4 linked regions of the Homo sapiens genome follow. The protein of the gene in region 2 interacts with the protein of the main gene of each other region in a pairwise test. Each region holds a gene or a part of one and is shown on either strand. Other genes may lie near its edges.

Evidence for each region.
Region 1: the proteins of PLXNA2 (region 2) and FNBP4 interact in a two-hybrid assay, tested with the Homo sapiens proteins (one study listed by BioGRID and IntAct).
Region 3: the proteins of PLXNA2 (region 2) and IFT80 interact in a two-hybrid assay, tested with the Homo sapiens proteins (one study listed by BioGRID).
Region 4: the proteins of PLXNA2 (region 2) and UBAP2L interact in a two-hybrid assay, tested with the Homo sapiens proteins (one study listed by BioGRID and IntAct).

Annotation. Positions count from the first base shown.
Region 1 is NC_000011.10:47,749,459-47,758,289, forward strand, and holds part of FNBP4 (formin-binding protein 4), read right to left. Parts: intron 7,534-8,831; coding exon of another isoform or gene 7,315-7,533; intron 5,207-7,314; coding exon 5,070-5,206; intron 3,645-5,069; coding exon 3,458-3,644; intron 2,940-3,457; coding exon of another isoform or gene 2,721-2,939; intron 1,833-2,720; coding exon 1,685-1,832; intron 1,579-1,684; coding exon 1,458-1,578; intron 676-1,457; exon of another isoform or gene 482-675; intron 1-481.
Region 2 is NC_000001.11:208,020,850-208,025,323, reverse strand, and holds the end of PLXNA2 (plexin-A2 precursor), read left to right. Parts: 3' UTR 1-3,082; downstream 3,083-4,474. UniProt on the Homo sapiens protein: Coreceptor for SEMA3A and SEMA6A. Necessary for signaling by SEMA6A and class 3 semaphorins and subsequent remodeling of the cytoskeleton. Plays a role in axon guidance, invasive growth and cell migration.
Region 3 is NC_000003.12:160,277,226-160,284,225, forward strand, and holds part of IFT80 (intraflagellar transport protein 80 homolog), read right to left. Parts: intron 5,389-7,000; coding exon 5,253-5,388; intron 3,590-5,252; coding exon 3,442-3,589; intron 2,140-3,441; coding exon 1,968-2,139; intron 446-1,967; coding exon 356-445; intron 254-355; coding exon 81-253; intron 1-80.
Region 4 is NC_000001.11:154,244,039-154,252,869, forward strand, and holds part of UBAP2L (ubiquitin-associated protein 2-like), read left to right. Parts: intron 1-2,165; coding exon 2,166-2,337; intron 2,338-5,200; coding exon 5,201-5,399; intron 5,400-7,002; coding exon 7,003-7,280; intron 7,281-7,442; coding exon 7,443-7,615; intron 7,616-8,831. UniProt on the Homo sapiens protein: Recruits the ubiquitination machinery to RNA polymerase II for polyubiquitination, removal and degradation, when the transcription-coupled nucleotide excision repair (TC-NER) machinery fails to resolve DNA damage.

The sequences.
Region 1 (8,831 bases), on a different chromosome or scaffold from region 2:
TGAGGCAGAATTGCTTGAAACTGGGAGGCGGAGGATGCAATGAGCTGAAATCGCGCCACTCCCTTCCAGCCTGGGTAACCAAGCAAGACTCTGTCTCAAAAAGAAAAAAATTAAAATTAAAATATATTTTGATGCAAAAAAGTCTTTAAAATTGAAGATAAATTGGAATTCAATATACACTCCCTAAGGAATACAACTTACTTTTCTTACTAATTAGGCTATAGAAATGCTCAGGTTTCACTAACATAGTATCCGTTATTGAAAAATCCAAAATCTGAAACCGTTTGAGCACTGACATGATGATCAAAGGAAATGCTCACTGGAGCATCTCAGATTTCACATTTTCAGATTAAGAATACTCAACTGCTAAGTATAACGCAAATATTTCAGAATTCAAAAAAATTCAAAATCTAAATTATCTCCGATCCCAGGCATTTCAATTAAGAAATACTCAACCTGCAGTAGTTTTTAAAGTAGTTACCTTTATATTTTTAAAATGTCTTATATATGGAATCCGAAAAATAATAGAATGATTCTATGTGAAGTGGAGCCCTGTCTGGACTGCTGCTCCCACGTCCTTTGCAATGATCCAAGAGGCCTCTGTGATACCCTAAAGCTCTCAAAGAAAAAGTGAAGTGGGCCAGCTGCAGTGGCTCATGCCTGTAATCTCAGCACGTTGGGAGGCTGAGGCAGGTAGATCACCTGAGGTCAGGAGTTTGAGACCAGCCTGACCAACATGGTGAAACCCTGCCTCTAATAAAAATACAAAAATTAGCCAGGCATGGTGGCAGGTGCCTGTAATGCCAGCTACTCAGAAGGCTGAGGCAGGAGAATCACTTCTTGAGCCTGGGAGGCAGAGGTTGCAGTGAGCTGAGACAGCACCACTGCGCTCCAGCCTGGGCAACAGAGCGAGACTCCATATCAAAAAAAAAAAAAAAAAAAAAAAAAAGGCCAGATGTGGTGGCTCACGCTTGTAATCCCAGCACTCTGGGAGGCCAAGGCAGGCGGATCATGAGGTCAGGAGATCGAGACCATCCTGGCTAACACAGTGAAACACCGTCTCCACTAAAAATACAAAAAATAAGCCAGGTGTGGTAGCGGGTGCTTGTAATCCCAGCGACTCAGGAGGCTGAGGCAGGAGAATGGTGTGAACCCGGGAGGTGGAGCTTGCAGTCAGCTGAGATCGCACCACTGTACTCCAGCCTGGGTGACGGGGCGAGACTCTGTCTCAAAAAAAAAAAAAAAAAAAAAAAAAAAAAGAAAAAAGAAAAAAGAAAAAGTCAAGTGAGTAACCGCTATAAAGGCTACATAATACACAGAAACAAAGTGAAAGTTATGAAACTTATCCTATTTCACATGTATGACATAAAATATTAAGAGAAGGCTTCCACTCCTGTGCTCAGAGTAACGCTTATTAGATCTGAAAATAAACAAATGAGGTAAGTTTCGACACTGACCTTTTTAACTTCTCGCTTGGCTATGACTGGTCCACTTTTACTACTGGAAACAGAAATCGTTTTCTCCTTAGAATATATGTCTGTATTTACCACAAAACTAGTTTCAGCACCTGGCACAGAACTAAAAAAATATATACTTAGCAAGAGAAATATAAGACAAATACTATCAGCAAAAGATAAGGCTTCAATTTCCTTCTAGGCAATTTCACTTTTAAATTTATTCTTACCTGGGCTGGTAATGCTGTAATCCCTGTACCTGTGTGGCAAGATATTGGGGTAACTCCCAAGTCACTTCATTTGTTTGTGTATTCCAATAATAATAACATCCCGTGTTCTCATCCCAGACTTCCTGCCAATCGCCCATCTCAATTCCGACTAGAAGATAAAACAAATTTTAAGCACAAATCCCTCTACAATTCTGGCTTACATATAAGCTCAAAAGCCAAAATCACCTAACAGTTTCTCAAAACAGCACTGTTAACTTTTGGGCACACAGGTCTTTGTTGTGGAGGGGCAATCCTATGTGGAGGTTTTAGCAGCACCCCTGGCCTCTGCCCACTAGATACAGTAGCACTCCCATCCACCCTGCCTCCTACATTGTGACAATAAAAAATATTTGACAGACATTGTCAAATATCCCCTAGGGGCACCCCCCAACACTGGTTGAGAACCACTGGCCTAACACCAAGAATTATTTTCTCAATATCTAACATTTAGAGTCACCTTTGAACACATTTTTTAAAAAAAAACAGTTTGGCCGGCTACAGTGGCTCATGCCTGTAATCCCAGCATTTGGGAGGCCAAGGTGGGCAGATCACCTAAGGTCGGGAGTTTGAGACCAGCCTGATCAACATGCAGAAACCCTGTCTCTACTAAAAATACAAAAATTGGGCGTGGTGGTGCGTGCCTGTAATCCCAGCTACTCGGGAGGCTGAGGCAGGAGAATTGCTTGAACTCGGGAGGCAAAGGCTGCGATGAGCCAAGATTGCACCATTGCACTCCAGCCTGGGCAACATGAGCAAAACTCCACCTCTAAATTAGTAAATAGAAAAAAGCAGTTTGCTGGTCCAAAAATGTACCTAAAATACTTTGAATATCATGGCTTTTCTTATTCAACTGGCAAGGACAAGCAATTACTTTTTAAAAGATAAAAATTACATCCTACTAGTTTTCTGAGCCGACTATCCTACCTACCATCTTCAACATGCTTTATTTAAAAAGACAGAGGTTGGGCGCGGTGGCTCAAACCTGTAATCACAGCACCTTGGGAGGCCGAGGCAGGTGGATCCCCCGAGGTCAGGAGTTCGAGACCAGCTTTGCCAACATCGTGAAACCCCATCTCTACTAAAAATACAAAAAATTTGCTGGGCGTGGTGGTGGGTGCCTGTAATCCCAGCTGCTCAGGAGACTGAGGCAGAAGAATTGGTTGAACCTGGGAGGCGGAGGTTGCAGTGAGCCGAGATCGCATCACTGCACTCCAGCCTGGGCAACAAGGGTGAAACTCAGTCTCAAAAAAAAAAAAAAACAATTAAATAAATAAAAATAAAAAGACAGAATCCTAAAGTCTAAGGTTAAAGTCTCTGGGCTTTCATCTTTAGAAAACTGAATGCCAGCCGGGAGCGATGGCTCACACCTGTAATCCTAGCACTGTGGGAGGCCAAGGCAGGCTGATTTCCTAAGCTCAGGAGTTCGAGACCAGCCTTGGGCAACACAGTGAAACCACGTCTCTACTAAAATACAAAAGAGAAATTAGCCAGGCATGGCAGTGTGCGCCTGTAGTCCCAGTTACTCAGGAGGCTGAGGGAGGAGAACTGTCTGAACCCAGGAGGTGGAGGTTGGAGCGAGCCAAGATCGCGCCAGTGCACTCCAGCCTGGGCGACAGAGCGAGATTCCATCTCAAAACAAACAAACAAACAAACAAACAAAAAACCAGAAAAGTGAATGCCTAGAATCCCTTTAAGGATTTTACTTTTCTTTAAAAATCAAAGGATCAAGTTTACCTCCTGCCAGTGAACACTGAGTATCATATTGCCAACCAGATGTTTGGGTGGAGTCTGTTCCATTTGAAGTAGAAGAAGAAAGGGTAGATGTTGCTGCTTCCTTTGGCTCTGGTCGAGGTGGAGTTGGAGGTGGAGCAGAAGCTCCTACAGGAGCTGCAGGCTGAGGAGCTGTTATGGCATCGATCTCCTTCAGTATGAAAAGAGTAACAAATGCAGTAATTATATCAAAAACAAGAAACTTAAGGAAATGGCAATCACTTTTTAAAAATTCTACATGAGCCGGGCACAGTGGCTCACACCTACAGTTCCAGCACTTTGGGAGGCTGAGACAGGTGGATCACTTGAGGTCAGGAATTCGAGACCAGGCTGGCCAACATGGTGAAATCTCCCTCTACTAAAAATAAAAAAAATTAGGCTGGGCACGGTGGCTCACGCCTGTAATCCCAGCATTCTGGGCGGCCAAGGCGGGCGGATCACCTGAGGTCAGAAGTTCAAAACCAGCCTGGCCAATATGGTGAAAACTTGTCTCTACTAAAAATACAAAAATTAGCTGGATGTGGTGGTGGGCACCTGTAATCTCAGCTACTTGGGAGGCTGAGGCACTAGAATTGCTTGAATCTGGGAGGCGGGGATTGCAGTGAGCCGAGATCACGCTACTGCATTCCAACCTGGGTGAAAGAGCAAGACTCTGTCTCAAAAAAAACAAAAAACAAAAAAAAAAGAATACAATTATTATCGGGCGTGGTGGCACATGCCTGTAATCCCAGCTACTCAAGAGGCTGAGGTGGGAGAATTACTTGAACCTGGGTGGCAGAGGTTGCAGTGGGCCAACATCACGCCACCACATTTCAGCCTGGGTGACAGTAAGACCCAGTCTCGAGGGAGAAAAAAAAAATTCTAGATACTCATTCTAAGCTTCTCAAATCAAAACCCTCATCTTCCAATTATACAAGCTCCCCAGTCTCTTCTAATTTGCCTTTCTTCTCTTTGAAAGCTTTACAAAAAGAAAAGGGAGGTGGTGGCTCACGCTTGTAATCCCAACACTTTGGAAGGCCGAGGTGGGTTGATCACCTGAGGTCAGGAGTTTGAGACCAGCCTGGCCAACATGGTGAAACCCCGTCTCTACCAAAAATACAAAAATCAGCTGGGTGTGGTGGCACATACCTGTAGCCCCAGCTACTCGGGTGCACATACCTGTAGCCTCAGCTACTTGAACCCAGGAGACAGGTTGCGGTGAGGCGAGATCGTACCGCTGCACTCGAGACTGGGCAACAGAGTGAGATTCTATCTCAAGAAAAAAAAAAAAAAGGAGAGACAGCCAGGTGTGATGGCTCACACCTATAATCCCAGCACTTTGGAAGGCCGAGGTGGGAGGATCGCTTCAGCCCAAGAGTTCAAGACCAGCCTGAGCAACACAGTGAGACCCCATCTCTTAAAGTTAAACAAAACAAAACAAAAAGAGAGATAGAGATCGGGAGAAATACAAGAGAGTGTTGGAGGGAGAGGGAGAAAGGAGGAGGAAGACATTGAACTGACAAGTACGCTGACCACTTAAGATCCAGGTCCCAAAGTAGCTTCAGTAACTAAAACTCCAAACGAAAGCACCACTAACCGCTAGGAAGTTGGCCAATGTACTATCAATATCAGTTGACTGGTTTCCATTTGTCTCTTTGGATTGTGCTAGTTTTTCGGAAACATCATTGTCATCGTCATCACTGTCAGCATAAGCACCAAGCAAGCATAGACCGCCTAGAAACAAAAAGGTAAACAGTATTTGTAACAACAATGTCAATATGTCCTAAGAAGCATCTAAAGCGGAAGTATAACATGTTTTTTTTAAACTTACTTACAGATTAGAACATAACCGCAAAACTAATAATCACTGAACTACCACAGAAGAATAAATTACATCGTATGGTTAAAGCTAATAAAAATTGATCTATAGGCCTGGTGCAGTGGCTCAACGCCTGTAATCCCAGCACTTTGGGAGGCCGAGGTGGGTGGATCATGAGGTCAGGCGTTTTGAGACCAGCCTGGGCAACATGGTGAAACCCCATCTCTATTAAAAATACAAAAAATTAGCCAGGCCTGGTAGCACGTGCCTGTAGTCCCAGCTAGTGAGGCAGGAGAAGTGCTTGAACCTGGGAGGCAGAGGTTGCAGTGAGCCAAGATCACGCCACTGCACTCCACCCTGGGCAAAAGAGTAAGACTCTGTCTCCGGGGGTTAAAAAAAAAAAAAAAAAATTGATCTGGGCTGGGCATGGTGGCTCACACCTGTAATCCCAGCACTTTGGGAGGCTGAGGCGGGCAGATCACCTGAAGTCAGGAGTTCAAGACCAGCCTGACCAACATGGAGAAACCCTGTCTCTACTAAAAATACAAAATTATCCAGGTGTGGTGGCACATGCCTGTAATCCCAGCTACTCAGGAGGCTGAAGCAGAAAAATTGCTTGAACTCGGGAGGCGGAGGTTGCGGTGAGCTGAGATCACGCCACTGCACTCCAGCCTGGGCAACAACAGTGAAAATCCGTCTCAAAATAAATAAATAAATAAAATAAAAAATAAAAAAACATGTTGATCTATGAGCCAGGCAACACAGCTTATGTCTACAGACCCAACTTCTTCGGGAGGATCTGAGGCAGGAAGATCATTTGAGCCCAGAATCTGAGACCAGCCTCGAAAACATAGTGAGACCTTGTCTATCCCATAAAAACAAAAACAAAAAAAAAAAAAAGGGAAAAGGAAAAAGAATAAAAATTTAGCCGAGCATACGGCTGAGGTGCAAGGATAGCTTGAGCCCAGGAGGTTGAGGCTGCATTAAGCCGAAACATCTCCACTGTACTCCAGCCAGGGTGACAAAGTGAGACTGACCATGTCTCCAAAAAAAAAACAAAAACAAAAAAAATCGAGAACAAGAAAATTAATCTGCATAGTTATTTCAATCAATTATTCAATCTCACTCTCTTTCCAAATTGTTCATAGATAGTATATCTTGATTTTAGAATTTGGTGATTAAAGTGTTTACTTCAAACTGAGCCAATTACAGTGTAGCAGCTGAAACAAAGACTTTCAAAAACTAAAGAAATAAAGACTTTCAAAGTTAAAAACGAAGCTTTTAATCAATGATTATTCCTCAAATAGGAAGTGACAGAAATTAAAAACATGAAGTGACAGGAATTAAAAATGGGGCTCAACATGGCTAAAACCAATGATCAATGTCTTCCTCAAATTTAAGTGGTATCAGGTATGGCCTCTGTAATGCTGCTATGCCATTTCCTTTTGGATCATCTGTGGCTACTCCAAGATTACAATTAACAATATAATACATAGAGTATTATTATATGTATTATAAACACATAAAATGTTAAATTCTAGCTAGACTTTTCCAGCTATTACTTATATTAAATTTCACAGCGCTGACACATTCTACGCTCACTAAAAAGTTGGTAAATGAACAGATTTATCGAAAGTTAAATCTAGTTTTGTGTGTCATACATCCCATACATAAACTCAAAGGTCACCTAAAAGTAAACATAAATTGTTCCATTAATCATGTAGGAGTTCATATTCAGTGCCTTAGTATCGTAATTCCTGCCTTCATTTTTTTCTTTCTGTATGTAGGTTAAGTTTTTTGTTGTTGTTGTTATACTTTAAGTTCTAAGGTACATGTGCACAATGGTGCAGGTTTATTACATATGTATACATGTACTATGTTGGTGTGCTGCACCCATTAACTCATCATTAACATTAGGTATTTCTCTTAATGCTATCCCTCCCCCACCCCCGACCCCATGACAGGCCCCGGTGTGTGATGTTCCCCACCCTGTGTCCAAATGTTCTCATTGTTCAATTCCTACCTATGAGTGAGAATATGTGGTGTTTGGTTTTCTGTCCTTGCGATAGTTTGCTCAGAATGATGGTTTCCAGCTTCATCCATGTCCCTACAAAGGACATGAACTCATCCTTTTTTATGGCTGCATAGTATTCTATGGTGTATATGTGCCACATTTTCTTAATCCAGTCTATCATTGATGGACATTCGGGTTGGTTCCAAGTCTTTGCTATTGTGAATAGTGCTGCAGTAAACATAACGTGTGCATGTGTCTTTATAGCAGCATGATTTATAATCCTTTGGGTATATACCCAGTAATGGGATCGCTGGGTCAAATGGTATTTCTAGTTCTAGATCCTTGAGGAATCACCACACTGTCTTCCACAATGGTTGAACTAGTTTACACTCCCACTAACAGCATAAAAGCGTTCCTATTTCTCCACATCCTTTCCAGCATATGTAGGTAAGTTCTTAAATAGCAATTTTATTTTGAGATGGAGTCTCGCTCTGTCCCCCAGGCTGGAGTGCAGTGGCTCCGCTCACTACAAGCTCTGCCTCTCAGGTTCACGCCATTCTCCTGCCTCAGCCTCCTGAGTAGCTGGGACTACAGGCGCCCGCCACGCCCGGCTAATTTTTTTGTATTTTTAGTAGAGATGGGGTTTCACCGTGTTAGCCAGGATGGTCTTGATCTCCTGACCTCGTGACCCGCCCACCTCGGCCTCCCAAAGTGCTGGGATTATAGGCGTGAGCCACCGCACCCGGCTGAGACGGAGTCTTGCTCTGTTGCCCAGGCTGAAGTGCAGTGGCGCAATCTTGGCTCATTGCAACCTCCACCTCCAGGGTTCATGCGATTCTCCTGCCTCAGCCTCCCGAGTAGCTGGGATTACAGGTGTGCACCACCACACCTGGGTAATGTTTGCATTTTTAGTAGAGATGGGGTTTCGCTATGTTGGCCTAGCTGCTCTTGGACTCCTGACCTCAAGTGATCTGCCCACCTCGGCCTCCCAAAGTGCTGGGACTACAGGCATGAGCCACCACACATAGCCTCTAAACATCAATTTCTAAAGTTTGATTTGTTTATGTATATATGTAAGAGATACGGTCTTGCTCTATTGCCAAGGCAGAAGCAGTGGATCACTACATCCTCAAACTCCTGGCCTCAAATGATTCTCTTGCCTCAGCATCCTGAGTGGATGACTAGAGTCACAACCCACCATGCCTGGCTAATTTATTTTATTTTTTATTTTATGCAGAGATGGAATCTCCTATGTTGCCTAGGCTGGTCTCATCCTGTCCTCATGTGATCTTCCTGCCTTGACTTCCCAAAATGTTAGGCAAAATTTTTCATTTCTTTTTTTTGAGACAGGGTCTCACTCTGGCACAAGTGAACTGGTGCGATCACAGCTCACTGCAGCCTTGACCTCCTGAGCTCAACCAATCTTCCCACCTCAATCAGGCTCCTGTGTAGCTGGGACTAGAGATGCGCACCACTGCGCCTGGCTAACTTTGGTAGAGACGGGGTTTTGCCATGTTGCCTAGGCT
Region 2 (4,474 bases):
CTGACCACATGTGATTCCCAGGAGAGGGCTGGGGGAGGGGAGCGCAGAGGTCTGGCTTCCATCCTTGGCGTGTAGCTTTGGATCGCTGTCTAACCACACAGCAGACGTTGCCCGGTCTCCCCAGCTCTAGTTTCTTGCCTGAATGCGGCTGACAAATGGGAAGAGAAAAGCATTCAGCAAAATACTCAGGAAACTTGCTGTTTTCATTATAATTCACAACCAGCCATGCCAAGGCCACTTTCTTTTGAAAATCCACTTCTTTAAAGTTTCTCAGGCCCTATTAGTAGCCTGAAGGAAATACTAATGACTGGCCTTCCGCACTAAGCCAAAGTGTTTGCTCTTCATAGCACTCAAAGCTTATCAGCGCAGAGCCCATAATTTATGGAGATAAAAGGAAAGGAGATATAGGTAAGAAGAGTGTGACCAGGAGACCTTATGCTACCTGTAAAAAAGTTCAGCCCACCCCATCTAACTTCTGAGCTCTGTTTGGGTGAAGATTTTCTGGCCGCATGGCTGCTCAGACTGGCATCCAGGCTTTGCTCCACCAAGAAGTTAAAGGCAGTCGGACATCTCAGTAGCATCTCTACCAGCCCTTAACTCAATGCATCTACCTGGCATCTCCCAGCAGTTACTTTTGGAGACGATTCACTGCCCCTGGGGCGTTTCCTTGAAGGTTTGTGGAGAGCGTGGAGAATGATGGGGCAATGGCCAATTGGAGGGTGGAGAGTGAAGAGCCGGAGCTGGCTGTGAGTGGTTTGGCCACATTTCTCAGGATTCCATGAGAGACTTGGGGAACTTGGGCTGACAAAGGAAGTAGCCTGGGGCATCCTTAAGGAAGGAATTAAGAAAAGGGAAAAAGCTGGACTCAAGCCACGCCATGAGGGTGAAAGGTTATAAGGCCCTGCCCCCTTTCCAGCTGCCCACCTGTTCCTCCTCCACACCTCTTCGCTTTGGGCCACCAAGAACCAATGAAGTCCACACCCTTTGGATGAGAAAAAGAGGGAGTTGGTTGGCCTCTCTTCTCCCTGTTATCCAATTTGAGGATATTTTGACCTTGGGTAAGGATGAAGTGTTAAAGCCACAGCTCCTCTCCACAAGAAGCCATTCATCTTGGGGGAGGCAGAGAGGGAAGTCTCTCTCCAAAGTCTATCCAGCTTCGCTTCGTTTCATTGATCTGCACAAGAGACAATGCTCTGGAAAAGGAAGAGGACCCCAGAAGGGTGCTTGGCAAGACAGAGGATGCTAATGGGCAATGGAGAGCACTCCCTCCAGCTGGCCCCTGCTGCTGCCTCCCGTCCTCTGCATGGGGTCAGGTGCTTCTGTGCTTGCTGTCCTACCTCTCTCCACAGCAGGGCTCTCAAAACCATTTTGATCCCCCATTGGCAGAGGGTTCCCCTCTTTACAGAGTTCAGTCATTAAAAGCATGGATCAGCTGTTAATCTCATTGGAGGAGGGAACTGTTTCCTGCATTCATTCATCTGGGAACCTTCTTGAGTAGCCACTGTCTGCCAGCCACTGCTCTAGAGATGGGAAAACAGCACGGAACAAAACCAAGGTCTTTCTTCCAGCGAATTTATATCCTTCAGGAAGCTGGTTCCTGCCACCAACTTAGCAGGCAACAGTTCTCCTCCCCTAGTGGCACAGGGTACCAGTTTTGTAGGAAAAGTGGTCCAGCAAAGGAAGAAAGCAGACCAACCCAGCTGCCTTACCTTATTCTGGGGCCATTCCCCCAGCGATGAGAGCTGCTCTTGTTTCTACTGCCACCATCTCTTCTGGCTGCACTTCACCTGCTGCTTGAGCTTCTGACCTTCCTTCAGTTCCACCAAATGAGGACAGGAAATAGCAGTCAAGACCCCTGGCCCTGCTGAGCGTGAAACAGAAGCAATGGATGAGTGCTGGACGAAGAATGGCCTGGGCAGAACAAATAGGGAGCATTTGAAAGCTTCTGGCTGATAAATCTCCAGGTGCATCCCGGTTGCCACGCCTGCCCCCATTAACCTGCTCCTGGTAAATACTGATCCAGCAGCTGCTCCAGGAGAGGCCGTCTTTTTTTCCCAGCCACGCTGTGTCTTGCATGAGACTCCTGGGGCCTGGGCACAGAGAGAAAAGAATTGAGACTCAGGAGGCTCAGTGGGTGAGAAAATGCAAAGTGGCTTCACAGACACAGGGCTGTGGGAGCAGATCGACGGGGAACTTGGGAGATGAACTTCAGGGCCTTCCGACGCCTTGTCTCAGGAACATGCTTTGAGAAAAATGGTAGCATCCTTTCCATAACTCAGTCTCTCTTCCCTAGTTTCCCTGAAGTGTGACGTTTTAGTATCTGGAGCTCAGTGATCCCCATGAATGAGGGATAAAGTTTCACTCTTGGTATTTTCTAACTAGTGCTAGGGAAAGTCCTGAGACACGATCACAGCCACTGCTTGGCATACAGGGCCTCCACCCAATAAGCAAACTGGAGATTCCTCAGCCTCTCGTGGACACCCACATCTCATTCTTCTCACAGCAGAGAAGCTCTCCCTTCAGCCTGAGCTGTCTTCTTTCTGCTGCAGTGCAGCCTGCTCCCTCCTACCCTGGCCTCAAGGAAGGTAGGAAACATCTTCTGCATTTCAAAGTCCTCACTTTGACTTATTTGGCCTTCATCTTGGCATGGAAGGTGGCAGGCAGAATGGAAATACTCCCCCCAAACAGAACAGATATTCTTGCGTGTGTAAGGGCAGAAGGGACAAGCTCTCTATCCCATGAGACTAGGGGCCGGAGCCCACCTGCCTTTCCCCACAACTTTTCCTGCTCAAACCCACTCCTCTTGACACACTGGAATCTGTATTATATATATTTTTAAGAAAATACAATGATGGTTGTCTGGTTTTGTTGTTTTTACAGGTGTTGTGGAATAAAAACTGTAAGAAAATTAAGTATTTAAAATGTTCCAATAAAGTGGGGTTTTTTGTTATTCTAATATATTATTGTGTACCTATTGTAAATATGAAACACTCCTATTTTGCAAGCTGAGGACACAATTTGTACTGTTGTTATATATAAATAAAGTTTACTGAATTAAAAAAACCTTAAATCTTTAAATAAACCCGATTGTTCAGCAGCATATATGCAGAATAACATTTTAAGGGCATATTTAAGAATGGTACTCATGGAAATATGAGCTAAGTTGTTTTGAGGGAGTTTTAGAATTCTCTCTGGAGCCAGAGCTTATTAATGTACCAGTCATCATCATCAACATAACACACACACACACACACACACACACACACACACACACACACACACACACACACACACACGAGATACCGTGGCTTATACCAGCAGGTGAACACTGCCCCCTAGCCCCAAGACCTCAGAATACAGCTTTCCTCCAACTGGAGGCAGCTAGTGTACTCCATGAGTTAGGACCCCTTCCCAGGAGAGAAGGGAGGTCTCAGAAGAATGAGATCCTCCTCTGCCTCCATGCTTAATACATGTTCTTCATGTGTTTGTACATTCATGTATACAAAGTGCATTCTTGTGCTTGTACAAAACGTATTAAGCACGGCCTGGCACTGTGGTAAGTGCTGGGGGATAACATAATAAGTGAGAAAGACATGATCCTTGTCCTCATCAACCTTTTAGTGTAGTGAAAAGCATAGGCTTGCTTAAAAAGGAATGTTTCACCATGCCTTGAGAAGGGGTTTTATGGTTGCTTTTTTTTGGTCATTTTCAGTTAAAGGATTAAAGGTAAATAAAGGGAAAGATGCCAGATAGTGTGTGCTTTTAGATCCAGTGCAGGTAAGACAAGAAGGCGGGCCCTGCCTAGGGGAGAACAGTAGCTGGGCAGACAAAGTCCAGAGGCAGCAGAAACATCACAATTCCACAGTAAGCCTGAGAGGTAGGGAATTGATCTTAGGACTCCTAATCCTTAGGGGTCCCTTAACCCTAGGAGGTCATGCCTCCTCCCCTCCTCTGTACTTTCATCTATTTTACGTTCTGGTGTTCCAACATGTGTGGGTGACACTTCTTCTCTCTGGTAAGAGAAATAGATGAGAATAACTCAAGTATCCATCTGACATCTCAACTGAGCATGCAAGCAAACTGCTGCTCACTATTTCCATGATAATGGGACCAGGAGAGTTCTGGGTCTTCAACCTTATACCAGGCACTAAGAGTAGAGCCTCCTGAAGGATGAGGTGCAGGCCCTGCCTTCAGAGTGCCTCCAGTCTAACATGGACAGCCAACACACAAGGGAGAATGGGGCCTGGGACTTGTAAAACAAAACATGTAAACAAGTGCATGTTGGTAAACATAGTGTGTGCTTACAGCTTCAAAGAGATCATAATTGGGAAGATTGTTAGTCCCGACTTAGCAGCCTCTGAGTTCACAGTGTTTGTGGGTCCCCCATCCACACCGCACACATGTACACACACACACCCTTCCCAGATGGAATGGAGAGATGCAAAAGCTGGTCCTGAGGGTGAGAAAAATGCAA
Region 3 (7,000 bases), on a different chromosome or scaffold from region 2:
ATGTAATTTACTAAGTGGTAGATGGAAAAATACATTAAGGTCAAACAGATTTTGGAACTGATGGAAAGCATTCTTATTACCTTTCCCAGTTGTAGAGATTAATATTGATCTGGATTGCTTGATAAACAAGGCCAGCCTGAAGAAGTACTATTTCAGCCTCCTGTATGTTCCCACTAAACAGTAGTATGTGGGCCATTTTTGATTCTTTAGATGGAAGATTTTTTATAGAATTGATGTACTGAACCTTATCAATCTAAAAAAGAAAAGAAAAATATTGAAGTAGATAGTAACAGAAATATAATAAATTACGCTAAGAAAAAACACATGTACATATATGTAAACATTAATTACTTACTTCACCAATTGCTGCATAGGCTATTTCTGCAGTAGTCATATCTCGATTAGCAACTGCCATAGCAGCTAGACAAGCCCACATGGTTTGCTCCTAAAGTAAAGTATGAGAACAATTATCTTAACTATGTGACTGAACTGCCTTAAAATAAGCAGTGATTTAAATACTCATACTAAAATGATATTTTAATTTAAAAAATAAAAATTACTGAGCAGGGCATTAAAAAAAACTAATAATGTGGGAATTTCATTGTGGCCATTTTGTTAAAATATATTAATACACAGAAAACTTTTGAATGAAATTTTCAATTTTGAGTTATTAAGGATTTATTTCTGAATTTAAAATAATAACTCAAGGTTATAAACCTTCCAGTCTTTTTGACGAGGTGTCAAAAAATGTAATTTATAGGGAACCAAAGAAATAGTGAAGTTCTCAGACAATGATATTATGGTAGATTGCTACTGATATACCAGTTAAGAAGAAATTACTTAGGCAGATAGTGAGGGTACAGAAGTCCTTTACGATAAGGTTTTCCTTTTAATGAAAAGCAGCCCCCAAATCATTTTCTTTTCTAACAAAGAGCAGCCTGTAAAATAGAGCTGCAGATATAAACAAGCAAGCTGGAAGCTTGCATGAGTGAATGCCAGTAGTTGTGCCCATAGCAATATGCTACCTGGGACTGGGGATGTTCAAACAGCAGCTCCATCTTCTCTTTTTGCCAGCCATCTGTACAGTAAGGAGTATACAAGATGGCACTGGCCAGGTGGAAAGTCTATTTGCATAATAAGATTAGGGTGGGGCAACCAGCCTTCCCTGTGCTATGTAAATGTCACACCTGGTCAAACCAATCTGTGAGCACTATGTAAATCAGACACGGCCTCCTCAAGCCTGCCTATGAAATCTGCTGCAGTCCACCACTTTTCCCTTTTTGGATTCCTCTCTCTGGCAAGGAGCTGCTCTCCTCTCTCCTTTCTTCTGCCTATTACGCTTTCCACTCCTTAACCTACCCACATGTGTCCGTCCTTGATTTTCTTGGTGTGAGATGACAAACTCCGGGTATTTACCCCAGACAATGATGCTATTCACCACCAACAACCCATTGTTAAAAAAAGCATCTAAAAGTCATTTCACAAAAGTGTATTCTAAGGAATGTTCACTGATGTTCAATAAAAAAGGTCTATGGTCAAACATGTTTGAAAAATACTAGATTCAACCAAGTTGGAAAAAGGCTGATCGAAAGCAGAGATTCTTAACCTTAGCTGTACAAAACAATCATCTGAGGAAATTAAAAAATATGCCCAGGACTCAATCCAGATATAATGAATTAGAATCTCTACGGGAGTAGAACTTGGGAACCTGACTTTCAGAAAACTTCCACAGAAGATTTTTATATGTGCCAGTATGGAAAAACAGTTTAAATTTTTATAGCGTCTTCAGAGAATAAATCACACAGCAACATGTATTCCTCTGTATTGCCCATGTCTTTACTTATAAAAAAAGACATGATCTTATTCACAATTTTTCCAGCCTTTAAGCCTATTATCATTACTCATTTTGCACAAAGGTAAACTACTATGAAATATATATACAACTATGAATCTAAAATGTAAATTACCTTAACAAAGCGACAAAGTCTCACAGCATCTTCCCATTTTGAACTGCTTACATATTCATGGAGAATAGCAGGATATGGTGTTATGCTGATGTGAACCAGGGAGCCATCAGCTCTTCTAATAGTTACTTGATTTCCAACAAAACTCACAATATGGGGATTTTTACTAAATTCACTGTTGAAAAAAAAAGCAAAGTACAATTTAAAGTTGTATTCTGAGCAAAATTTTTCATGTATATTAAATTTGGGGAGTGGACCGTGAAATACACACGGAGTCTCCAATCTCCAAAAGGCACACCCCCAAAGGTTAACTCCAGGGAGAATGTATATGTTCAAAAAAAATTTCAATGTATTTATTTGAATACATATTCTCCCTGGAATTAACTTTGAATGTAAACATTTGAATATAACTTGCTATATAAAGTAGCAAAAATTATTACATATTTGAGAGCTATTCCTAAGAGCATTTGAAATCATCTTTTTTTCCGAGGCTTAAGATAAATCACAACAATAATTTATATAGCTTTAGCTTTTAAAAGTATTAAAGGGTAAAACAATAAAAAGTAAACCAAATTCCAAGACTATTTTCTCAGAATAAAAAGAGGTGAGCCAGGCACAGTGGCTCACACCTGCAGCCTTAACTACTTGGGAAGATCACTTAAGCCCAGGCTGCAGTGAGCCATGATTACACCACTGCATTCCAGCTTTGGCAACAGAGTGTGACCTTGACTCTAAAAATAAATAAGTAAAAAGAGATGACCTTTAAATAAAAAGACTAATTTTTTTTCATTAGTCCAAATACTTTTAAAAATACGCTGTTTTATTTTGATGCCTCTCTGGTTTTGTTAAGGTTTTGAATTTGAATACTAAAAACAAACTCAAAACAGATTTGAAAACTAAGCTAAGGTCTAGAATTAAGAAGCCTTTGTATTCCTATTTTGTCAAGAATAAGAGATCTCCTTGCTATTTCTTAGAGAATTTAGGAATATAAATGGTTTGATTTTCTGAAGCATATAAATTTTTAAAAATTTCAGTAACTTTGGTCTTTTCCTACTTTTAATATCAACCAAAAATTCAATTCTAGAGACATTTACATTCTTGAAAGTGTTAACGTCAATGATAATCTGTGACAGCGTTGGGTAGTTGTCACAAGGTTGTGCATCCTGAAAAATCTTAAAGAGTGCCTAGACTAAAATCACTTGATCACACTGAGAAAACTACCTGAGCTACCATTACACAATATTAAGCTTGAAAATTATATTCATATAAGGGACAAATAAATAATTCATATCATACCACACTTTCAACTTGATTCTGTCACTTAAGTCTCAAGCTAGCTTTAGCCGAACAATTTATTCATCAATAAATCTGACTGATGTGTAAAACACCTTGCAGGATTGAAAATAGAAGCCAAAACATGATACTCTATTAGAGTTTTATTTACTACAAAACAGAATTATACGCAGTAAAATGTTACCTTGCATCCCTTTCATATAATGTTTTAGGCAAAATGTCTCTGTCCACATAAACTGTATTGGGGTAATACCACACTATAAATCGAGTATCTTGAAGTCCACAAAGGATATTGCATGTATCGTTCCATGCCAAAGTATGCACCATTGTTCCTTAATTTAAAAAGAATGTTAATGTGCTATTAGCTTTAATATGTAAGAATTAAAAATAGATCTTTAAAATGCCTGACAAACAAAATCCCATACAATTTCTGGTAGATATGACTCTACTTTCTGATTCTATAATGGTGAAAAACACATACCAAACAATCACACAAGAATTTACAGAAATATTTGAATGCTTTACTTAGAACCCTTATATTTTTAATCTGTAAATCTTTCTTTCAGTGACAATTTAGCTGCAGCAGCTAAAGACTTGCTAATAAGTTAATCCTCTTGCCCTCAGGCCATCAAGCTCCAGATGATCCTCAGTGAGGAATACCGTCCCCTCAATATTCAAGAGTCACTCTTCTACAGGGGACCCCTAGTCTGCCCATCAGTGGGACATGACAGAGGTGAAGTCCTCCCTTGTCTCCCTTGGACCTAGCTGCATACTGCTTTCACCAACCCACGGAGCCACCCTGCCCTGACAGCTAGCAAGAGGCCAAGATCCACAGAATAACCACCATTGCCCCTCTGTCAGCAGGAAGCAGTTACAGAAGACTGACTTTTGTCCATTTTCCCCATAGAATTGGGGTCTTGGACTCTTGAGGGTGGAAATGTTACAGCAGGTAGTCAGGCAGACATGAGCAAGTCAGGAGAGGCCCCTGCCACCAGCACCAGGAATGTCAGGTGACCATCAGGTGATGGTCAGGCTGTTGTTAAGCTGTCTCTCTAAAATAATAATTGGTTGCAGCCAGTGCCAGGGAAAGGTAGTCTCTCAATATAAACACTGAAACTGGAAATCAGTAGCTTCTCAATAAGATCTCAAGAGCTAGGTGAGTGGGCTCACACATGACTAACAGGCAAAATGGTGGAGGAGTTTAACTGGTATACAAACTTCCTCTAGAAACACTGGAGTGGTAAGGGAAAAACGCCTCAAGTGAGCATGTGTATAACTTTAGTAAACACACTGTGCATGTGGCCCCTCCCAGGTGTTGGCAGGCCACTATGCATGTGGACAGCCCACCCAAGGGAAGAATTAGGGCAGAAGGGTTGCAACTCCCCAGAAGCATGCCAAAGTATAAAACCCCAAGTCAAAGATCAAACAGTGCACTTGATCTCTCAAGCTGCCTGCTTGCCCTCTACCAAGTTTACTTTATTTCCTTTCTTTCCTGCTCTAAAGCTTTCAAATAGGCCAGGCCCAGTGGCTTACGCCTGTAATCCCAGCACTTTAAGAGACTGAGGCAGGTGGATGGCTTGAGCTCAGGAGTTCGAGACCAGCCTGGGCAACATGGTGAAACCTTGTCTCTACCAAAAATACAAAAAAATTTAGCTGGATGTGGTGGCACATGACTGTAGTCCTAGCTACTTGGGAGGCTGAGGCAGGAGAATCACTTGAGCCCAGGAAGCGGAGGTTTTGGTGACCTTGATCTTGCCACTCCACTCCAGCATGGGTGACAGAGTGAGACCCTGTCTCAATAAAACACAATAAAAATTTAAAAATAAAGCTTTTTAATAAACTTTCACTCCTACTTTTTTAAAAAAAGGGTTAAATAGCTAAGAAGTATTACAAGATCAAAACATTAAAACATTTCCAGATTCATTCAAATTATTTATTACAGCAAATATAAGAAAGTTGACAATTAAAACTTAAAATGTATTAAAATTATTTTACCAAGCTTGATAATTTGTTCTTCCTTCCCAAATCGTTTCACAGAAGTGATACAGAGATCTCTATTTTTATCAATGAAAGCAATTTTTCTATCATTGGTAAGTCCTTTTTGATCCAGAGCAATTTCCAAGATTTCATTCTAAAATTTTTTTTAAATGTAAATACTGGGTTAGTTTTAGTGTTTGACATAAGATCATTTTAATTAATTATAAAATCATTTCCTTTAAGATCAATTAAATGTCATTTCCCCATTTATAATGATAAAATGTCCCTGTTAAATAATTTTAAACTGCCAATATGTTAATCGTTCAAAAGCTGCACTGAAGTATATTTGCCTGACATCCAAGGAAAAGATACCTCTTAAAATACAATAAAATAATATGTATTTTGATATTCTGTAGGCTGAGAAACACTCGATCTGTCCTGTCCTACCTTTCGTAGTCAAGGTGAAAGGGTCAGGCAATTCTGAGTATCATATGAGAGGTCTATTTTGATTAATAAGTTGCCTAACAACTATATCTTAAATATTTGTAAAAAAAATTTTGGAAATATGTGGAAATACATCATGTGTCCAGGGCCTTAAATTCTATAGATTCTCTCACATTCATTCTTGCAAAATAGGAAACAAGCTTGTAATGTAGGTATTACTATACTTACTTTGCAAATCAGAAGACTAGACTCATATTCACTAAGTGATTTTGCTCAGAAAAAGCCAGTGTCAAGTATATCTAAACTTGCAACTCAGACTTCTAACTCCAAGATCACTGCTTTTCATTTGCTAGTGAGATGAATTTTACTATAACTTGAAAATGTTTTAATATAGATTCATTTTAATTCAAACCAAGCAAGATTTATTTACCTCCTACAATGTCTGAAGACTTTGGTAGGAATTGTGAATTCAACCAGAATAATGACTACAACATCAAGTCATTGTATCAAAATGTACTATAAAAAACACTTTTTAAAGTAAAACAAAACACACATACACCTTTATCCAAATTGATGAATCAGTCATATACCAGTTCATAATACATTTTAAAAAGTTCAACTCTTTCTGGAATACCATAATTTATATTTTAAGAAAGAAAAGAATTTGGTTTCATATATATCAAGGCATGCATGAAATATAACTCTAGGTATTTTCAAAATGGAAATGTTTCAGAGAAACTGATCTTTACAATAAAGAATTGCTTATCATCGTCATCATCATCATCAGAACCTAGTGTATTCTTTTAAAAACACTGTTAAACAGATATGATTCTCCTAAGAAATTAAAAATCAAAGATGGATAGTAATTATAGTAATGCCTATGTACATAGGGGAAGAGGGGCTCCCCCACTTCATTCAGCAGGGCTTCCCCCATTTTCCTCTTGTCAAGTCCTACCACCTCCACATAGGTTCTATTCCTCCTGGGTTACTCTTTGTAGTGGGACATAAAAGCAGTTTTGTGTTCATTAGAACCGTCTCCCTTGCCCTACACTAATTAATATTCATTTACTAATACACAGACTTGAGTTCTAGTTTGGGCTCTGTTATTGGGAAGATCCTGGATATGAATTTCTTCCACATATAAAATAAAATAGATTGGGTGATTTTTCTATTATTTTATAGAATGTAAAATTTAAAAATCCTTTGTATTGCATACAAATGTACTGGGTAATTGGGTGAAGTGTGACATGTAGAAGACACTTCCATTCTTATAATTAGGAAATTATAAATTTCTTAATTTTAATTGTAAATTAAATTATTTT
Region 4 (8,831 bases), about 54 Mb from region 2:
TGGATCAGCAGGATCCAGCTAATAAACGTTTTAGAATTTAAATCTCTAGGGATCAGTGGTAGGAGATACACTCTTCAGGGAATATTTTTAATTCGCTGGAAACCTCTTGGATTTTTTCTAGACCTGAGCCTGATAGCTCAAAAATTCAGTTCTGACGTTAACTACCCAGAGTTAATGCAGACCCCACAAGTTGAAAGCTCAGTTCTACAAGAGTGCCCCAACTTCAGAGGTTCTGCCAGCCAGCTACAAATTTGGAGGTTCCCATGACCGCCTTTCAAGTTTGATAACTCACTAGAATGACTGAACTCAGGAGTTTTACTTGCCGTTACTGTTTTTTTGTTTTTGTTTTTGAGACGAGACGGAGTCTTGTTCTGTCACCCAGGCTGGAGTGCAGTGGCGTGATCTTGGCTCACTGCAACCTTCTCCTGGGTTCAAGCCATTCTTCTGCCTCAGCCTCCCTAGTATCTGGGATTACAGGCATGCACCACTATACCCAGCTAATTTTTTATTTTTAGTAGAGGCAGCGTTTCACCATGTTGGCCAGCCTGACCTCAGGTGATCCACCCACCTCAGCCTCCCAAAGTGCTGGGATTACAGGTGTGAGCCACCACACCTGGCCCATTACTGGTTTATTATAAAGGTACAACTCAGCAACAGCTAAACGGAAGAAATGAGTAGGGCAAGGTATGAATGGGTATGTGGGTGGGGCACACACAACCTCCTTGTCCTCTGCAGGTATCCTGAAGCTCTCCAAATCTTATTGTTATGAGTTTTATTACCTAGGCATGATTGATTAAATCATTGGCCATTGGTGATTGGACTTAATAGCCACCTCGCCTACACCCCTGGAATTTGGTGGGATTGGGAGGGGCTTCTGAAAGTTCCAACACTCTTACCTGGTCTCTTTTTTTGAGACAGAGTCTCACTCTGTTGCCCAGGCTGGAGGGCAGTGGCACAATCTTGGCTCACTGCAACCTCCGCCTCCCAGGTTCAAGCGATTCTCCTGCCTCAGCCTCCCGAGTAGCTGGTATAGTAGGCACCCGCCACCACGCCAGGCTAAGTTTTGTATTTTTAGTAGGGTTTTACCATGTTGGCCAGGCTGGTCTCAAACTCCTGACTTCAAGTATCCGCCTGCTTTGGCCTCCCAAAGTGCCGAGTTACAGGTGTGAGCCACTGCATCCAGCCTTATCTGGTCTTTCTAGTGACCAACCCTCATCCTGAAACTATCTGGGGCCCCACCCTGGGCTACCTCATTAGCATTCAGGTATGGTTGAAAGAAGTGTGTTATGAGTAACAAAGGACACTATCACTTAGGAAATTCTAAATGTTTTAGGAGCTCCATGCCAGGAACAAGGCAAAGCTCAAGTATATATTATACCACAGGTAACTTTTGAAATTTTACGAAAATTGTGGGAAAAAATATCTCTCAGACTGCCCCTGTTCTAAAGCCATTTGAAGATTCCAGTGTTCTGGTATATGATTTTCTGTTTTAGGAATTGGTAATGACAGGTATTCAGTATTAAAATCATGGATAAGTACTTGTAAGTTTTGGCTGAGTTATTGAGCTGCCATGTTAAAACTAGCATTTGAGGCCGGGTGCGGTGCGGTGGCTAACGCCTGTAATCCCAGCACTTTGGGAGGCCAAGGCGGGCGGATCATGAGGTCAGGAGATTGAGACCATCCTGGCTAACACGTGAAACCCCTTCTCTATTAAAAATACAAAAAAAAAAAATTAGCCGGGCGTGGTGGCAGGCACCTGTAGTCCCAGCTACAGGCTGAGGCAGGAGAATGGCGTGAACCCAGGAGGCAGAGCTAGCAGTGAGCCAAGATTGCACCACTGCACTCCAGCCTGGGTGACAGAGCGAGACTTTCTCGAAACAAACAAACAAACAAAAACTAGCATTTGATATTTCATTAAATTAATAACTTCACTTAAAAAATTAACCATTATTATTGGCAACATCAGTGGAATTCAGCTATATACTGTAGTGACTCTTATGCATCAGTTATTTTGGGACATTTAAGCATTTCAAGGCTTTTGTGTTTGAACCCTTTTAGAAGAAGCCCCAGCAAGTGGCTTCATTTTGATCTAATCTGATTTGAGTGTTGGGGAATGTTAGCGTGTTCAGTCATTCTTCATGAAGATCCCTTCCCTTCCCCATTAGAATTGACCTTGCTGTTCTGCTGGGGAAGACACCATCTACAATGGAGAATGATTCATCTAATCTGGATCCGTCTCAGGCTCCTTCTCTGGCCCAGCCTCTGGTGTTCAGTAATTCGAAGCAGACTGCCATATCACAGCCTGCTTCAGGGAACACATTTTCTCATCACAGTATGGTGAGTAGGAAACGTGGTTTATCCTAATCAAACCTTCCTGCTAATCCTAGCACACATACACAGTTCCTTCCAAAGACAGTCAGGTTTTTGGCAGGTGAAGCATCCTCTTTGTCTTCTTAAGCAGACTTGGTTGTAGAAATGTTTGAGTTGGGTAATAGGGGGTAGCTCTAAGAGAGGACTTAGTTCTGGACAGACTGAATATTCTTATAAGAATAAGTTAACATTATTTATTGACTACTCATTGTGCTGAATGAACACCATTTGCCATTACTCTTGAGAGAAAATCAATGACATAAACTTGTCAATACATTTTAATCCTTTTGCAGCCCTCATTAAACTATGATGGGAGATTGTAGCAGTTCCCCATTTCTTGATGGATCAGAATTGTCTTGTATATTTACTTAAACCAGGTATTTGTAGACAAGGCCTCCAGAAACCTATGGTCTTCCCATTTCTGCCACTTACTAGCTGTGTCTCCATTTCTATGTAAATAGGGATAAAAGTGCTAGTCCTTCCCATCTTCCCAAAGGTGGCTATACAAGTGTGGTTTCAGTAGTGATATTATAAATAACTTAGAACTTATGACATATTACTTGTTGACTCAGAGCATTTAAAACATCCAAGGTCATTAACGACATCAAAGGAATCATTTAAACTAAACAAAGATGCTACAAGTACCAGTTTTCTCATAGTCATTGAGTCCTGAGAAGTACTGCTTTTTCTTTTTTTCTCTTTTTCTCTCCTATTTTTTGATGGAGGGATACTAAAGTTGTAAGCAGACCATGTGTGTGCATATAATTTTATTTTTCCAGTTAGAGTAATTAGTTTAACTAGAAAACTGCCAAGCTAGCTACTAATTCAGAACTCGGTCAGTTTTTAATTGTTGTCTTAAAATGTTTTTTGTGTGTGTTAAGTTAGTAATTTGGTGGTCGATGTCCTGCCACATAGGAAAGGTAACAGGTGAGAAGAGGTGGGAGGAGAAGGGAAATGGAGAGAAGTGTTGGGATTAAATAGAAAAAGAAGAAAGAAAATAGGACAAAGGTTGTAAGAAGGTGTAATGAAGATCAAGAAGTAACTACCAACCCTTAAAGATAAATGACTGGAAAATGTGATTATGTGATCTATGTCTCTTAATTGCCCTCTTAATGTCTGGAATTGTGAAAATTTACAACGAAATCAGACTTTTGATATCAAAAAGATGTTTTCAGCTGGGGACAGTGACACGTTCCTGTAGTCTCAGCTACTCTGGAGGCTGAAGTGGGAGGATTGCTTGAGACTAGGAGTTCAAGACTATAGTGAGCTTTGAGCTCACCACTGTACTCCAGCCTGGGTGACAGAATGAAACCCTTTCTCTAAAAAAAAATTTTTTTTAAATAAAAATGTGAAAACTAAGTATAAATACTATTCTGTTTTTTTGTTGCCTGTACTAATCAATATGTTAGATAATGTAATTTCCTTTCTATTGAGAATAAATGTTAGAGGATTAATTTCACTTAAAATTTAATAGAGCTAAATAACATGGGAGTTTCTTTATATTTTTATGTATAATACAGTGAACACTAGGTAATTTTAATTGTTTTTATTTTTTATTTATTTTTTATTTTTTTTTGAGACAGAGTTTCACTCTTGTTGCCTAGGCTGGAGTGCAATGGCGCGATCTTGGCTCACCGCAACCTCCACCTCCTGGGTTCAAGCAATTCTCCTGCCTCAGCCTCCTGAGTAGCTGGGGTTACAGGCGCCCGCCACCACGCTTGGCTAATTTTGTATTTTTAGCAGAGACAGGGTTTCACCATGTTGGTCAGGCTGGTTTAGGACTCCTGACCTAAGGTGAGCTGCCCGCCTCAGCCTCCCAAAGTGCTGGGATTACAGGCGTGAGCCACCGCATTCGGCCCAGTGATTACCCTATAGAACTTGTATGTACATGGAGAAAACAATCAAATCATACTGACTTGCTACTTGATTGTCTAGTGCAGAAGTTGGGATGCCCTTTAACTTTTCCTTTTTGCCTCTGTGCTAGTTATTAGCAGCATCGAGATGAGGCTCCAGTTAATTGTTGTTTCTTTTGAGTTTTTTTAATGAGAAGGGCAAGGACCTTAATGGCAAAAGTAAAATCTTATATTACATTTATGTTAATTGTATTGGTTGATTTAAAAATTCTCGGCTGGGTGTGATGGCTCACGCCTCTAATCCCAGCACTTTGGGAGGCCGAGGCGGGTGGATCACGAGGTCAGGAGATCGAGACCATCCTGGCTAACACAGTGAAACGCTGTCTCTACTAAAAATACAAAAAATTAGCCGGGTGTGGTGGCGGGTGCCTGTAGTCCCAGCTACTCGGGAGGCTGAGGCAGGAGAATGGTGTGAACCTGGGAGGCGGAGCTTGCAGTGAGCCGAGATAGCACCACTGCACTCCAGCCTGGGTGACAGAGCGAGACTCTGTCTCAAAAACAAAAACAAAAACAAAAATTCTCCAGTCAGCCAAATTTTATCCCTGAGAAGCAGGGAGAAGGAAGTAATGATGATATGAAGTTTTAATGGCTCTGTTTTTTTAGTGATTACTATGTGCCATACATGTATTAAGTGCTTTAATTTATTTAATCCTCCTACAGCTTTACTTTTATTCCTATTTCCAGATGAGGAAAGAGAGATTAAAAAATAGTTTTTCCAAGCTTACATAGCCAGGATTTCAATCTAAGACAGTCTGACTCTAGGTCCTATACTCTAGTGGACTATGCTGTATACTCAGTGTGACAGTATTCTTTACTTGCCTGATCTATACTGGCTCTCGGTCTGGATAAGTGTCTTTATGAGTAGCTGAACAAGGTTACTGGCTGTAGGTTTCTCTCATCTCTTTGTTGATCTACAGGTGAGCATGTTAGGGAAAGGATTTGGTGATGTCGGTGAAGCTAAAGGCGGCAGTACTACAGGCTCCCAGTTCTTGGAGCAATTCAAGACTGCCCAAGCCCTGGCTCAGTTGGCAGCTCAGCATTCTCAGTCTGGAAGCACCACCACCTCCTCTTGGGACATGGGCTCGACGACACAATCCCCATCACTGGTGCAGTATGGTGAGAAGATGGAAAGTGACTTGAATCTTTAAAGCATTGGAGCATTACTGTCAAGAGGCTAGCAGGGGGAGGGGGTGGAGAATGTGTCCTGAAGTGAAGAAAAGGGGCAGCTAGTTGGTTACCTTCCCACATGTATTTCCCCTAATCAAATAAGCTGAATTCAAGAAGTTGGGGAATAATAAAATTTGAGGCTATGTATTTCTCATCACATTTAGAGGCTGGGCATGGTAGCTTACACCTGTAATCCTAGCACTTTGGGAGGTTGAAGTGGGAGGACAGCCTGAGCCTTAGGAGTTCAAGAACAGCCTGAGCAACATATCAAGACTCCATTTCTAAAAAAATTGTTTTCAATTAGCTGAGTGCGGTGGTGTGCACCTGTGGTCCCAGCCCCTAGTGAGGGTGAGCTAGTGTGAAGCTAGCTTTCCGCAAAAAAAAAAAAAAAAAGAAAAATTTTTAACCATATACATAGTTGCAGTCTTCTGTTGATTGGGGTTTTAATTATTATTATTATTCTCCTTAGATTTATCTTCAGTGTTTGAAAATAACATATTGCCTCCAGGTTCTTAGGCTTAGCCATCTTAAGACCTTATACAGTAAGTCTTCACTTAATGTCATTGATAGGTTCTTGCGACTTTATGCGAAACATAAGACAAGGTCTAGTTCTGTCATCCAGACCGGAGTACAGTGGCACTATCTTGGCTCACTCATCTTCCTGGGCTCAAGCAGTCCTCCCACCTGAGCCTCCTGAGTAGCTGGGACCACAGGCTTGTACCACCATGCCTGGCTAATTTTTAATTTTTTGTAGAGATGGGTTTTCACCGTGTTGCCCAGGTGTGTCTCTTGGGCTCAGGCGATCTGCTGGTCTTGGCCTCCCAAAGTGATGGGATTGCAGGCGTGAGCCATTGCACCTGGCCATTTTTTTTTCCTCATCAACATTATAATGAAATCATGTTGAAGGAAACAACGTTATGCCAAGATATGCCATGCCTTGTTTTTGCTTAAAGCCAGTTTCCAAGCACCTATGGATGTTAAATGAGAACTTGCGGTACTTTAAACTTGGACAATTTGTGCATTCCTGTCTTACACAGACAGGGTAATGTTGATTTAGTTAGGCTTTATTTAAGGATGGTTGTAGGCCAGGTGCGGCAGCTCATGCCTGTAATCCTAGCACTTCGAGAAGCCGAGGCGGACGGATCACTTGAGGTCAGGAGTTCGAGACCAGCCTGGCCAACATGACAAAACCCCGTGTCTACTAAAAACACAAAAATTAGCCAGGCATGGTGGCGCGCGCCTGTAGTCCCAGCTACTCTGAGGCAAGAGAATTGCTTTAACCCAGGAGTCGGATGTTGAAGTGGGCTGAGATTGCACCATTGCATTCCAGCCTGGGTGACAGAGCAAGACTCCCATCTCAAAAAAAAAAAAAAAAAAAAGATGTAATCCAGTGATTGTCACCTATAGAAATGAGATTAAGCCCCAAAAGAGGGCCTGCTTATATGAGTTTCTGATTTTTACAGTCCTCATTCATGGTGCTAGTGCAGGACAATAGCATTTCCTTGAGATTCATTAGCATCTCTGGCTTCATATACTGGGTTTCCTCTTGCAGATTTGAAGAACCCAAGTGATTCAGCAGTGCACAGCCCCTTTACAAAGCGCCAGGCTTTTACCCCATCTTCAACCATGATGGAGGTGTTCCTTCAGGAGAAGTCACCTGCAGTGGCTACCTCCACAGCTGCACCTCCACCTCCGTCTTCTCCTCTGCCAAGCAAATCCACATCGGCTCCACAGATGTCGCCTGGATCTTCAGACAACCAGTCCTCTAGCCCTCAGCCGGCTCAGCAGAAACTGAAACAGCAGAAGAAAAAAGCCTCCTTGACTTCTAAGGTACTTAAACTTTTAGGTAGATACCATTTTATGGCAAGGGGTGTGGGGCTTGAGAATTGAGATTAAAAGGGTAAGTTTGGAAATTTAAAGGGAAGGGTTTTTTTTAGTCTTTAGTAAGGTTGTATTAAAGCCATTACTTTCTCTTCTCCTTCAACTTTATAGATTCCTGCTCTGGCTGTGGAGATGCCTGGCTCAGCAGATATCTCAGGGCTAAACCTGCAGTTTGGGGCATTGCAGTTTGGGTCAGAGCCTGTCCTTTCTGATTATGAGTCCACCCCCACCACGAGCGCCTCTTCAAGCCAGGCTCCAAGTAGCCTGTATACCAGCACGGCCAGGTAGAGGAAACATTAACCATAAGACCTCTCTTATTAACCTTTACTACTTTTTTAATCTGTGGGAGATTTCTAGAACTCTGGAGAGGCCAAGCCCCTCTGCATGGCTGAGGGGGAAAGTAGTCAGTCATAGCATTTTTAGTGCTTTAAAATATTGTTATTAGGGTTATCTGTAACTAAACAGGTAGAAATATGCCCCTTAGGGGCTGGGTGTGATGGCTGACACTTATAATCCCAGCACTTTGGGTGGCCAAGGCAGGAGGATTGCTTGAGGCCAGGAGTTCAAGACCAGCCTGGGCAACATAATGAGTCCCTGTCTCTACAAAAAAAATTTTTTTTTAAACACAGAGTTTCACTCTGTTGCTTAGGCTGGAATGCAGTGGTGCGATCTCGGCTTACTGCAACCTCTGCCACCCGGGTTCAAGCGATTCTCCTGCCTCAGCCTCCCGAGTAGCTGGGATTACAGGTGCCCACCACCATAACCAGCAAATTTTTGTATTTTTTAGTAGAGATGGTGTTTTACCATGTTGGCCAGGCTGGTCTAGAACTCATGACCTCAAGCGATCTACCCACCTCGGCCTCCCAAAGTGCTGGGATTACAGGGGTGAGCAACCGTGCCCAGCCCAGATTTTTTTTTTTTTTTTTTTTTTAGATGGAGTTTTGCTCTGTTGCCAGGCTGGAGTGCAGTGGTGTGATCTCGGCTCACTGTAACCTCTGCCTCCCAGGTTCTAGCAATTCTCCTGCCTCAGCTTCCTGAGTAGCTGAGATTACTGGAATGTGCCACCACATCCGGCTAATTTTTGTATTTTTAGTAGAGACAGGGTTTCACCATGTTGGCCAGGCTGGTCTTGAACTCCTGACCTCGGGTGATCTGCCCTCCTCGGCCTCCCAAAGGACTGGGATTACAGTCATGAGGCACCACGCCTGGCTCAGAGTTTTGCTCTTGTTGCCCAGGCTGAAGTGCAATGGTGCAATCTCCGCTCACTGCAACCTCTGCCTCCCAGGTTTAAGCAATTCTCCTGCCTCAGCCTCCCTAGTAGCTGGAATTACAGGCATGCACCACCATGCCCAGCTAATTTTGTATTTTTAGTAGACATGGGGTTTCACCATGTTGTTCAGGCCAGTCTTGAACTCCTGAATGGAGATGATCTGCCCACCTTGGCCTCCAAAAGTGCTGGGATTACAGGCGTGAGCCACCACACCCGGCCCAAATCTTATA